3 separate regions of the Homo sapiens genome follow, and all the other regions are reported to be linked to region 1. The links are microRNA targets in miRTarBase. Many come from high-throughput screens and were not tested one by one. Region 1 holds a microRNA gene; each other region holds the end of a gene's coding sequence.
The links. Region 1 holds the annotated microRNA hsa-miR-203b-5p (UAGUGGUCCUAAACAUUUCACA, at 944-965, opposite strand). A microRNA usually pairs through its seed, bases 2 to 8, with sites in the 3' UTR of a target mRNA and lowers its output. Matches are read on the target gene's strand: a 7mer-m8 pairs with bases 2 to 8, a 7mer-A1 pairs with bases 2 to 7 and ends in A, and an 8mer does both.

Region 1 (3,256 bases):
CAGGTACGGGGCTACCCCTGTGGGCTGCGGGGTGGGGGTTCAGGGTCTGAGAAGCAGAAACCTCCCTCCCTCCAGTTTCACTTTCTCTTTACCCCTCCCCTTCCCCCTCCCACGAAGTTCCCTTTGAAGTGAGAGGGGCTGGGGTGGGTGTGTCCAGCCCAGCCCCCACACCCACCGGAGAGCTAGCGCGGCCCTGGGCTCCTGTCGGGCGCTGGTCCTCACCTGTTCCGGCCACCCTGGGCCTCGACCCGGCCAAGGTGGAGCCCCGGGCCCTCCGTGCGCCCGAGCACCCCCGGCCCAGACGAGACGGTTCGGGCGTGGCCCGGCGGGGACCCAGAACCCGGGAGGCCAGGTGCGCCCAGGCCAGGCGCTGGAGGCTGGGGCGCCGGATGGGGCGGGGCGGCCGCTGAGTCAGGGCCACCCCCGCGCGGGCGCGCGGAGCAGGTCCCCGGGCCGTGGAGGATCAGTCGCGGGACCTATGGGCCCGGGAGCCGCCCCGCCCGGAAAAACCGGTCGGGCCAGCGCGGCGCGGGCACATTCCGGCGCCGGGAAGGGCGGCTGCGCCGCATAAAAGGCGCCGCCGCGCTGGCCACCGCCGCTCGGAGCTCAGCCGCCCTGCCACGCGGGGCCCGCGGGACGAGGGGACGCCGGGGCCAGCGAGGACGCGGCGGGGCTGGGCTTGGCGGCTGGGATCCCCCAGCGCCAGGCGAGGGCGTCTAAGGCGTCCGGTACGGCGTCGGGGCCGGGTGGCTGCAGCAGGGCAGGGGGTGCGCGACCAGCGGGGATCTGGGCGCAGGGGCCGGTCCCCGGGATCCGCAGGCGACGCGGGCGGTCCCAAGGGCGTCGGGGGCTCCTCTCTCCGCAGCTCGGCGAACCGACGGTGTTGGGGACTCGCGCGCTGGGTCCAGTGGTTCTTAACAGTTCAACAGTTCTGTAGCGCAATTGTGAAATGTTTAGGACCACTAGACCCGGCGGGCGCGGCGACAGCGACGGAGCGTCCCACGCGCGGCCTGGAGTCAGAGTCACAGTCAGGGGTGCGCCGGCGACCAATCCAGGGGAGCCCACGGACCGGCTCCGCGCTCCAGGTCGGCCGCCCCATGCGCCGCGCCCCGCAGTCCCCAGGGCCTGGCTGGCTCCACCTGCTGCCAGGGAAGACCCTCGGCCGGAGAGCCAAGTGCTGCTGGGAGGTGGCCGGGCGTGGCCGGGCTGTGCTGTGGGAACCGCTGGGTGGGGGCGCGCTGGGTTGCCCACGCTCCTGGCGCGCTGCCGGCCTGGAGACGCCGCCGCCGCCCTCTTGCACCCCGAGGGCCCGCACCTCGAAACTCCGTGGAATTCCCAGCGAGGAACTGGCGGTGGGCCCGTAGGGTTGAGGAGCGCTCCTTGCCCTGGGCTTCCTGGGAGCTGCCCATCAGGCTGCCGGCAGCCGCACCCTGCTGGGCGGCCGATGGTTCCCGCTGCCGGCTCCCCGGAGCGTCTCCACTCACTGAGGCCTTAGGGAGCGCTGCGCGGCTCCTACGAGTGCGCGCTAAACTCGTGAAGGACCTCGAGGCACAGGAACTGGGGGTGGGGAGGAAGTTTGCAGACTACACCCAGGTAGAGGAGAAGCGGCGCCCATGATGACAGGTGCCTTCGCCGGAGCCTCCCTGGAACCTCGTGGTAGCTAGCGCCCACAGGAGAGGTGTGCGCGTCAATCTGCGTGTGAAGCCCCGGGCGGCCCTGGGAGGGACTCAGCAAAGGGTCGAATCTGTCCCCACCTCCAGCCAGGGGCCGGGGTCTTCTGCCTGGTGCTGCCTGGCCTGCTGTGTCCTCTGGGGTGGAGGGTCCCCCTCCAGTCCCCACCTCCTCACCCAGTGTTTAGAGAGCTGCGGGGAGTCCTGGGAGATGGGTCAGACAGGCCTGGGTTTGAGGCCTGCTAGGGTGGCCTTGGGCCAGTCACCTGCCCTCTCTGAGCCCGACCTGCACACATAGGGGGTTGATGTGAGGAGACAGGAGGTGACTGTGGAGGGCTGTTCCAGAAGAGGGCCAGCAGCAGGACAGCAAGGTCCCCTGGCCACCCAGGTGGGGGGAGTGGAGTTCCCGGGAGAGCATCCACCACTGGCCAGTGCCTCCTCTGTTGCTCAGCAAATGCCATTGTGGCCACCTCTCAGGATCTGGCTTCAGAGCTTGGGGCCGTGGGAGCGCCCAGTGGGTCTGTGGCATCGGAGGGGTTGGAGTGTCTTCCCCAGCTGCTGCCTGCTGACCACCGCAGCCCCCTGTAGCCATTTCATTTTACAAGCACGTTCCCCCGTGCCCTCTGCATGGGCCCTCAGCCCTCAGCAGCCCCGTGAGAGGGGCTGAGGCTCAGGTGGGAGATGGCGGCTGTGTCCCTGTTCTGCGGCTTGGAGGCATTCTGTCCGGTGTGCGTCTGTACAATTTAGACTGATGACAATAAACATGTTCCAAAGCATCGCTGTGTCCCTGGGGTGCTTGTCCTTTTCCCCCAGGCCTCAGCGTGGTTTCTCCCTTGAAAGCAAGCCAGCCTTTTCCTTCTAATCTCAGAGAAGCAGAAATGAGGATGGTTGGTGGAGGGGCAGTGGCCTGGTCCTTACCCAAGACCCTCCCTCAACTCTGCCTCTGGCACTTTGGTCTCCAGGGAAGCCCCCAGCCTCTGCCACCAGCTTTCTCGTTGCAGTGACCTCCCCTGGGCCACTGGGCCAGACCCCCTCCCTCGGGTTTGAGCTGCACTGCCTCAAGGAGCCAGGCTGGGGAAAGGGCTTGGCTCCCAGGGGCCCCACTTTCAGGGGCTCCAGCCTGCTCCCACTCCCCCCACTCACCACAACACTGCTCCCTTGGCTGGCTCCCACTCATTCCCGCTGGAGCCTGTAGGCTGGCCCTGGGGACCTGGCCAGGAGAATGGGCAAGGTGGGAGGGTTGAGGGATTGAAGAGACAGAGGCACCTTCCTCCACCCTCCCTGCCTCTGGCACAGGGGACCGAGAGTCTGTCGTGCATTCAAACCCCAGCTCTATGCCTACAAGCAAGTGACCTTGGCAAGTCCCTTATCCCCTCGGAGGACCTGTTTCTTCCTTCTGTAGGATGACGTGGAGCTCGCTGGAGGTTCCCCTGACATGATGCAGCACACTTCCTGAGTGCTCAGCAGGGCAGAGCTCAAGCTGTCACTGGAGCTGATGTGGTGGGAGGGCCAGTGGGGGATCCTTGAAGAGGCCGAATTTCAGCCAGGGCCTCGGAGGACCAATGGAAGGCCTCAGGTGGCAATGA
Region 2 (3,206 bases), not on the chromosome of region 1:
TTCTATCATTACTTAAGGCAAAATAAAAAACAAAACTGCAAAATAATAACCCAAGGAACCATTAAACCCTGCGTGCCTTTGAAGATCAAGAGTAAAAGCCTAGGACAGGATTTTTTTTTTTCTTACTTTTTTCTCATTTTTTTTCTTTTTTCTCTTTTTTATAGATAGCAAGTATATTTTTTCTCATAGAACTCTATGAAGATTCTATAACTTCTTTCCATGTAGAAATAAGATATCATTTAAGATGTACTAAAATCACTTTTGATCATAATCCCCTGTAAAAGCTAAAGTTATTCACTTAACAGGAACTCTGTTTTTCCTTATTCAAATGTCACAAGCCTGACGCGTTACTGTACATATTGCTAGCAGGAGACAACTGGAAATACTAAACAAATACTGGAATTCACATTACAGACAGACGAAACCAACATGGATGCCACACATAACTTCCTTTGTAGTTTCACAGAGAGCCTATTTGTGGTTGCTCAGGTGGGGTCATACATTGCTTGCAGAAATGGCCTGATCATAGCTCTATGAAACAATGAATTCGGAATGAAATCTTACCATGACACCTCTCTGTAGGAAAGAAATGTTGCTTCACGTGTGCTAAGTTGAGATAATAATATTTCACATATTTATATACAGAGAATCACTCTCAAATTTAACCCAAGATAAGCAATAGGATTTGGGGGTGACTTGTACGCATTTCTAAAAACACTTTTCTTTTTTCTAGAGGTCACTCTCAAACACTGATATATCACTATAGTTTGAGTGTAGGGATTCAGTAATCAAAGGTTGTTATTGCAAAAGAGCCAGGCAGCTGGACAATTTTTATGGGGAATGTCCACTTTAGCGGAGAGATTTAAGACTGGATTTCTAGAATAACCCACAATGGAGCCGAGGAACATGATCTTCAAATATCTTTGGCTACTGTTTCTTGGTAATGCAATAATTTTTCAAAAAAGTATCCATTGCTACTATGTTTCCTTCCACCTTATAACACTCAAAACTTTCCTGAAAAATGAGAAGAGAAATGAAAAAATGACAAGCTGTTGGAAAGACAAATCTCTGATCCCTAGGTCACCAATTTAAAATGGGTGAATAATTTCCATTCAATGTCTTCTCAGTGAAGTTATCCTAATTTCCCAGAAAACCCATGCAAAGCAGTTTTAATATTCTATCCTTTCTTCCCCCATTCTTCTATAATATTCACCGTTTGGTGACCGGATACACAAATCCACAAAAAGTGATGTTTTCAGACAATCATATGTTTGATCCCATAAATGATATAAAAGATTTTTAAAAACCTGCTTACTGATAAATAAGGGACCGAGTGCTTAAACAAAAAGGAAAGACACATGTCTTCCTTCAATCTGATTAGCTAAGCTGAGCAGGTACTTCATCGGCCAAACCCTCCCGCAGCTGCTAGGGAACACAGAGCCGTATTTACTCCAAGGGGCATAGCCCCACCAAAGGCAAGCTTTCTTCTTTTTTTGGCAGGGCCCTGAAATGGGAAGCAACTCTTCCTAAACATATTCAAAGGGCCAGAGCTACAGAACGGGACTTGTATTTTTGTTTCTCCCTACTGATTCTTTGTGTGTGCATGTCTCTAATTTAACAAGCTGTAAATACACTCCACTTTGGGGACCCATCTCTGTACTGCAATTTCATGAAGGCTAACACGTACAAGTCAAAAGTTTTTCAAAACAGTGGTCTCCTAAGAATGCTCTTGCATGCACCTGTGCAACCTGACGGGGGAAATAGGCCACACAGACCGTCTGGGTCTTCTGTGGGACATCACATCCTCCTACAAATGAGAATCTCATGTAAGAAAATCCCATGTCTTTGTTTACCACAAGTAATTAAGAAGAAAAGCCTCTTTTGTTGGGGAGGAAACAGAGGTGATATGACTAATGTGTGTGTGTGTGTGTATATATATATATATTTATATACGTACAGAGCACAATGAAAAGCACAACCTTGCTAAAAGCTCTTTCAAAGTGAAAACACCAATAAAAGCTTTTTTTCTTGTTTGTCTGTTTGTGGTTTTTGTTTAAACTCACAGCTATATACATTTTTCTTTTTTACAAAGTCTCTTAAATATAGTTCAGGCTGGCAAAACACCTCTTTGCACAGAACCGTACAGATTTCGCTGCACAGTCCATTCTTTTAATAATAAATTTCTACGTTTCCTTCTCTCTGGATTACAGCTCCATGTGCTGGGCAAAATCTCATTGACTCTTTCTTCACTTAAGGAGAGCCATCCATTGTGTGGCACAGAAAGAAATGTTTAAACTTCCATTGTAATTAAAAAATATCAAGTGTCCTTGGCTGAGTTTCAGAAGTGTCAGCTGCTTCCATGACGTTGGAAACACCCGGGGCCTTGAAATGGTGATGTCCTATCACACTAAACATCGATTGGAGTGGTAGAGATCTTAAAGCAGTTATTTTAACAGAAATGTGTACTTCTCACATTTCACAGGGTCAGAAGTTGATCTTGTAATACTGGAAAACACCAACGATAAGGGTCTGCCGGGATGGGATGACTGCCTTTTTGCATTTTTGTCTTAAGTCAGTGGGACAAAAACATTCCTGGTCTGGAGACTTTCTTTCTCTCTCTCTTTCCTTCTCTCTTTCCTTCCCTCTTCTATGTTGCTGAGCGGGTAGGGCAGAGGGATAGGAAGGGAAATAGGGCAAAGCTATACTCTAGTGGTGGAATGTCCGTGGGGTAAATTTGTACTGTTTTGTCCTCCACTGAAGGTGTTAAAAGTGTGCAAAGGCTGCATCCCCGTCAGTGTGTTTGGAATCATGGTGATGGTGTTTGGCGTCATAAGTGGGATGTCATCTGGCGACCGGCGCAGCGTGAGGGTGTAGTCTGGCGGGCAGGTGAGCCTCAGTGTGTCGTGTGCCTGCAGCGACTCACACTCGTGATCGTGTTCCAGCTGCTTCATCTGCAGAGACATGATCTCTTCGTTCTGGATGTGAGCGATATCATTTGTGGTGTTTCTCTGGGGACTGGGGCGCCTGTGAGTCTCATGGCGCCTCTTGTCCTTTTTGTAGTACAGCGCCGCAAAAGCTAAGATGTTGAGGAAGAGGAGCGACGCCCCGACGGCAATGGTGACACTTAATTCGGTGGAATAATCTCGTTTGGTTTCAATGAGGACAGTTGTGTCCTCAGGCCCTGTTTTGTGAGGGTCCTTAGAGTG
Region 3 (3,256 bases), not on the chromosome of region 1:
AGCTTGGGATCAAGATGGTTGGCATTGTTAGGGTACCCCCTCTACAGATGACCTCCCACAGTCCCCCAGGAAGACATGGGATATTTTCACCAGCCTCATTCGCTCACCATTGGTACCTTCAGCAGAAAGAAATGAAGTCCTCTCCATTTTAACTTTGCTTCCAGCCTGGCCAAGAGAAAAGACTTTCAGACTTCCCTCTAAATCAGCTGCAGTGATAGAAAGCAGACTAGGTAACTTCAGCATGAGAGGGAGGGACCTCATTGCAGGAAGCAAAAGTCACAGTAGAGTTAAGACTCTTGAAAGAAGCACTTTTATTTTCTTGAAGAATTGACAGATCTCTGCTTCCTGTAATGTTTTGTGCAAATTTCTGACAGTGCTATTTTCCCTTCCCATAGGCAATGTGAAGTATTCATCCGGCCAACCAATGTTTCCTGACGTACAGTGTTGCCCTTTTCAGCAAATGCCAATTCCAAGTTCCATTAAATCAGAAGCTCCATGGCTCCTTGGCCCACGATGTTGAGTGCTGACTGTGTGTTCTACTGAAAGAGTAAAACACTGACTATCCAAAGAGAAATGGATATTTTGTTTTTATAATAACCATATATTATTGTTTTCTTCTTCCCTTTCTATGCAAGTGTAAATTAATGAACAGAGAGGTATTTGGAAATGGTAATACATTTGTCACGGATTTGTATAATGTATACAGCATTGGGAAAGTGGGTGGGGGCTTTCTAATATGATACCGTCTTTTTAATAACTATGACAAAGCTTACATAAGAATTAGAAGACCACTTTACATTTTTACATTCCTTCTGCTGTTCATATTAACCTTGCACAATTACTTCATTTTTTCTTTGACTCTTTTACCACAATGTTTTGGTTATTTATAATTTATCAGCCATATGTTTATCAGCCATATAACCAACTAGATCCCAAATAGATCCATGTATTTGTTTCCGTGATTTGGCCACATTAATAAATTCATAAATTTCAATCAAATATCTTATATATACACACATATGGTTTAAGCTACAGCCCTGTGTATGCCGTTTAACTTTATTTGACGTTGCCCACTTACTTCTTTGCTGACCACTTGGATAACCGTAATAAAAATCCTATAAGCCTAAATGGCATTTCTTTTGGGATATTTTTCCTGCATTTTATTCCCTTTTTATATAAGTAGGAATTAATTATTTATTTTATGTCTTAATCTATTTGATAAAGAAGACTACATTATAATAATCTCAAAGATCATATTACCAAAGGTTGCCCACTTGAGCATATTTTCATTTTGACACAGAAACAAAATTTAGTACAACCTTTCCTAGTTCCCATGTCTTGATTTTCATCATTACATGCACAGCAGACCTTTACCTATTGTGATACCAGAACACATCATTGTCTTTGGTTCCCTTCAAAGAGAATTTTATTGTTGTTTTGTATTTTCAAGTCCTTAATAGTTCTTGAAACTCCTAGTTGTTTTCTTGTTGAAAGCAGACACACATTTAGTGCACGGCTTATTTTACCTTTCGGGTGAAAGATCAGATGTTTTTATACCCTTCACTTGATCAATATATTTGGAAAGAATGTTTATCAAAAGTCTATGTCACTGCTTCTACAGAAGAATGAAATTAATGCTTAGGTGATGGTACCTCCACCTACATCTTTTTGAGTGCATTCAATTATGTATTTTGGTTTAGCTTCTGATTTAACATTTAATTGATTCAGTTTAAACATGTTACTTAATTAGCAAATGTAGAGGAACCAAAAAAAGGTGAAAATAATATGTTTTGATTCAAACCTAAAGACATAAAAACATAAAGACATTTTAACTTTGGGTTCTCTTTAGCTGGGATCTGGCCAGAAGGAGGCTTAAAGTTAGAAATTGCTATTATTTTAGAATAGGTTGGGTGGGTTGGGGGGCAAGGGTGTCTATTTGCAGCAGAGATATTTTGAAAAGAAGAAAATTGTTTTATATAAAAAGGAAAGCCATGACCACCTTTCTACCTCAGATCCATCTTCATCCATTGCATTGGAAACTGCTTTATGCTGCTGCAGTCTGCAAAGTCTAGAGCTTTTATCAGGCCATGTCATACCCAAGAAAGCACCTATTTAAAGAAAAAACAATTCCCTGAGCTCTCAACTCCAAGTTGTAGATTTGGTGTCTTCCTTGTTCTTACTTTAAAAAGTCATGTGTTAATTTTTTTTCTGCCTGTATTTGTATGCAAAATGTCCTCTATCTGCTATTAAAGAAAAGCTACGTAAAACACTACATTGTAACCTTCTAAGTAATAATAAATAAAAAGAAATATATTGCAGTAACAATGGGAAGTAAGTATGTAGTTCTTTTGAAATATGTGGTAAAGAACTAATCACAGACTATCATCTAATCTGGTTACATATTGTATTTTTCATCCTGAATAAAAGTAATTTTAACACAAGATGACTTTGATATTCTTCAGCTGGATTCACTGATAGAATGTGAGTTTTGAATGCACATTTATGAAAACAAGATATAGAGATAGCCTGTGTCCTGATACATCTACATTTTTTCCTGCAGTTTCTCTCATACACACTAATACAGTCTCCTGTTGCTCTCATTCTCTCTCTCTCCCCATCTCTTACACATACATATAATTATATGATTCTCAATTTATTTTCCAGATAGAAGGTTTATTGATAGAGAAAAGTAATATTGGATGTAAAAATGTGTACATAAAACCTGTTGAGTGTTTTAATAACTAGATGCTGTTGACATTAAGTTCCTTTCAAATGTACTTTTAGTTTCATGCTCTCAAATACTGTATGCTTTTTATCCGTACACTGGATTTTAACCACTCTAGTAGGTTTAATCAATTTCTGAAGCCATTCAGTGGGAAACAATGTTGAGAATCATGTTGCTTTATTCTAAAATTAAAAGCTGTCTATGAACTAGAAAAATCATCTAAAATATAATTTGTTAAAATAAAGAAAACTGATACATTCTGATGAACAAACATTTTAAACATCCTGTGTACCACTAAGTAATGCTGACATTAAGCATTCCTGAAAAAACACTTGATTTCCAGCAACTTGTTGACTAGGTAGCTGAAAATAGAAGTGCGAACAAATGAACAAGTTTTGCTTTCATACTGCTGTGGTTTGAATGTGTCACCCACAGTTCATGTGTTGAAAATTTAATCCCCGATTCCATAGTGTTGAGGGGTTGGACCTTTAAGAAGTGATTGGATCATGAGGTCAGAGGTCATGAATGGAT

Region 2: the mRNA of NLGN4X is a reported target of hsa-miR-203b-5p. Seed matches in the 3' UTR shown: 7mer-m8 at 1,709-1,715.
Region 3: miRTarBase lists UTRN as a target of hsa-miR-203b-5p. Seed matches in the 3' UTR shown: 7mer-m8 at 787-793 and 7mer-m8 at 1,088-1,094.

Annotation. Positions count from the first base shown.
Region 1 is chr14:104,116,525-104,119,780 of GRCh38, forward strand. It overlaps MIR203B (microRNA 203b), which reads right to left and starts at 979; the gene lies at 894-979. It overlaps MIR203A (microRNA 203a), which reads left to right and starts at 881; the gene lies at 881-990.
Region 2 is chrX:5,890,118-5,893,323 of GRCh38, forward strand. It overlaps NLGN4X (neuroligin 4 X-linked), which reads right to left. Exons shown (of 6, transcript NM_181332.3): 6 at 1-3,206. The coding sequence ends at 2,700. Among named protein-coding and RNA genes, the nearest start is that of LINC03070, 170 kb to the left of the region's middle.
Region 3 is chr6:144,850,594-144,853,849 of GRCh38, forward strand. It overlaps UTRN (utrophin), which reads left to right. Exons shown (of 75, transcript NM_007124.3): 75 at 396-2,441. The coding sequence ends at 404. Among named protein-coding and RNA genes, the nearest start is that of TRQ-TTG4-1, 330 kb to the right of the region's middle.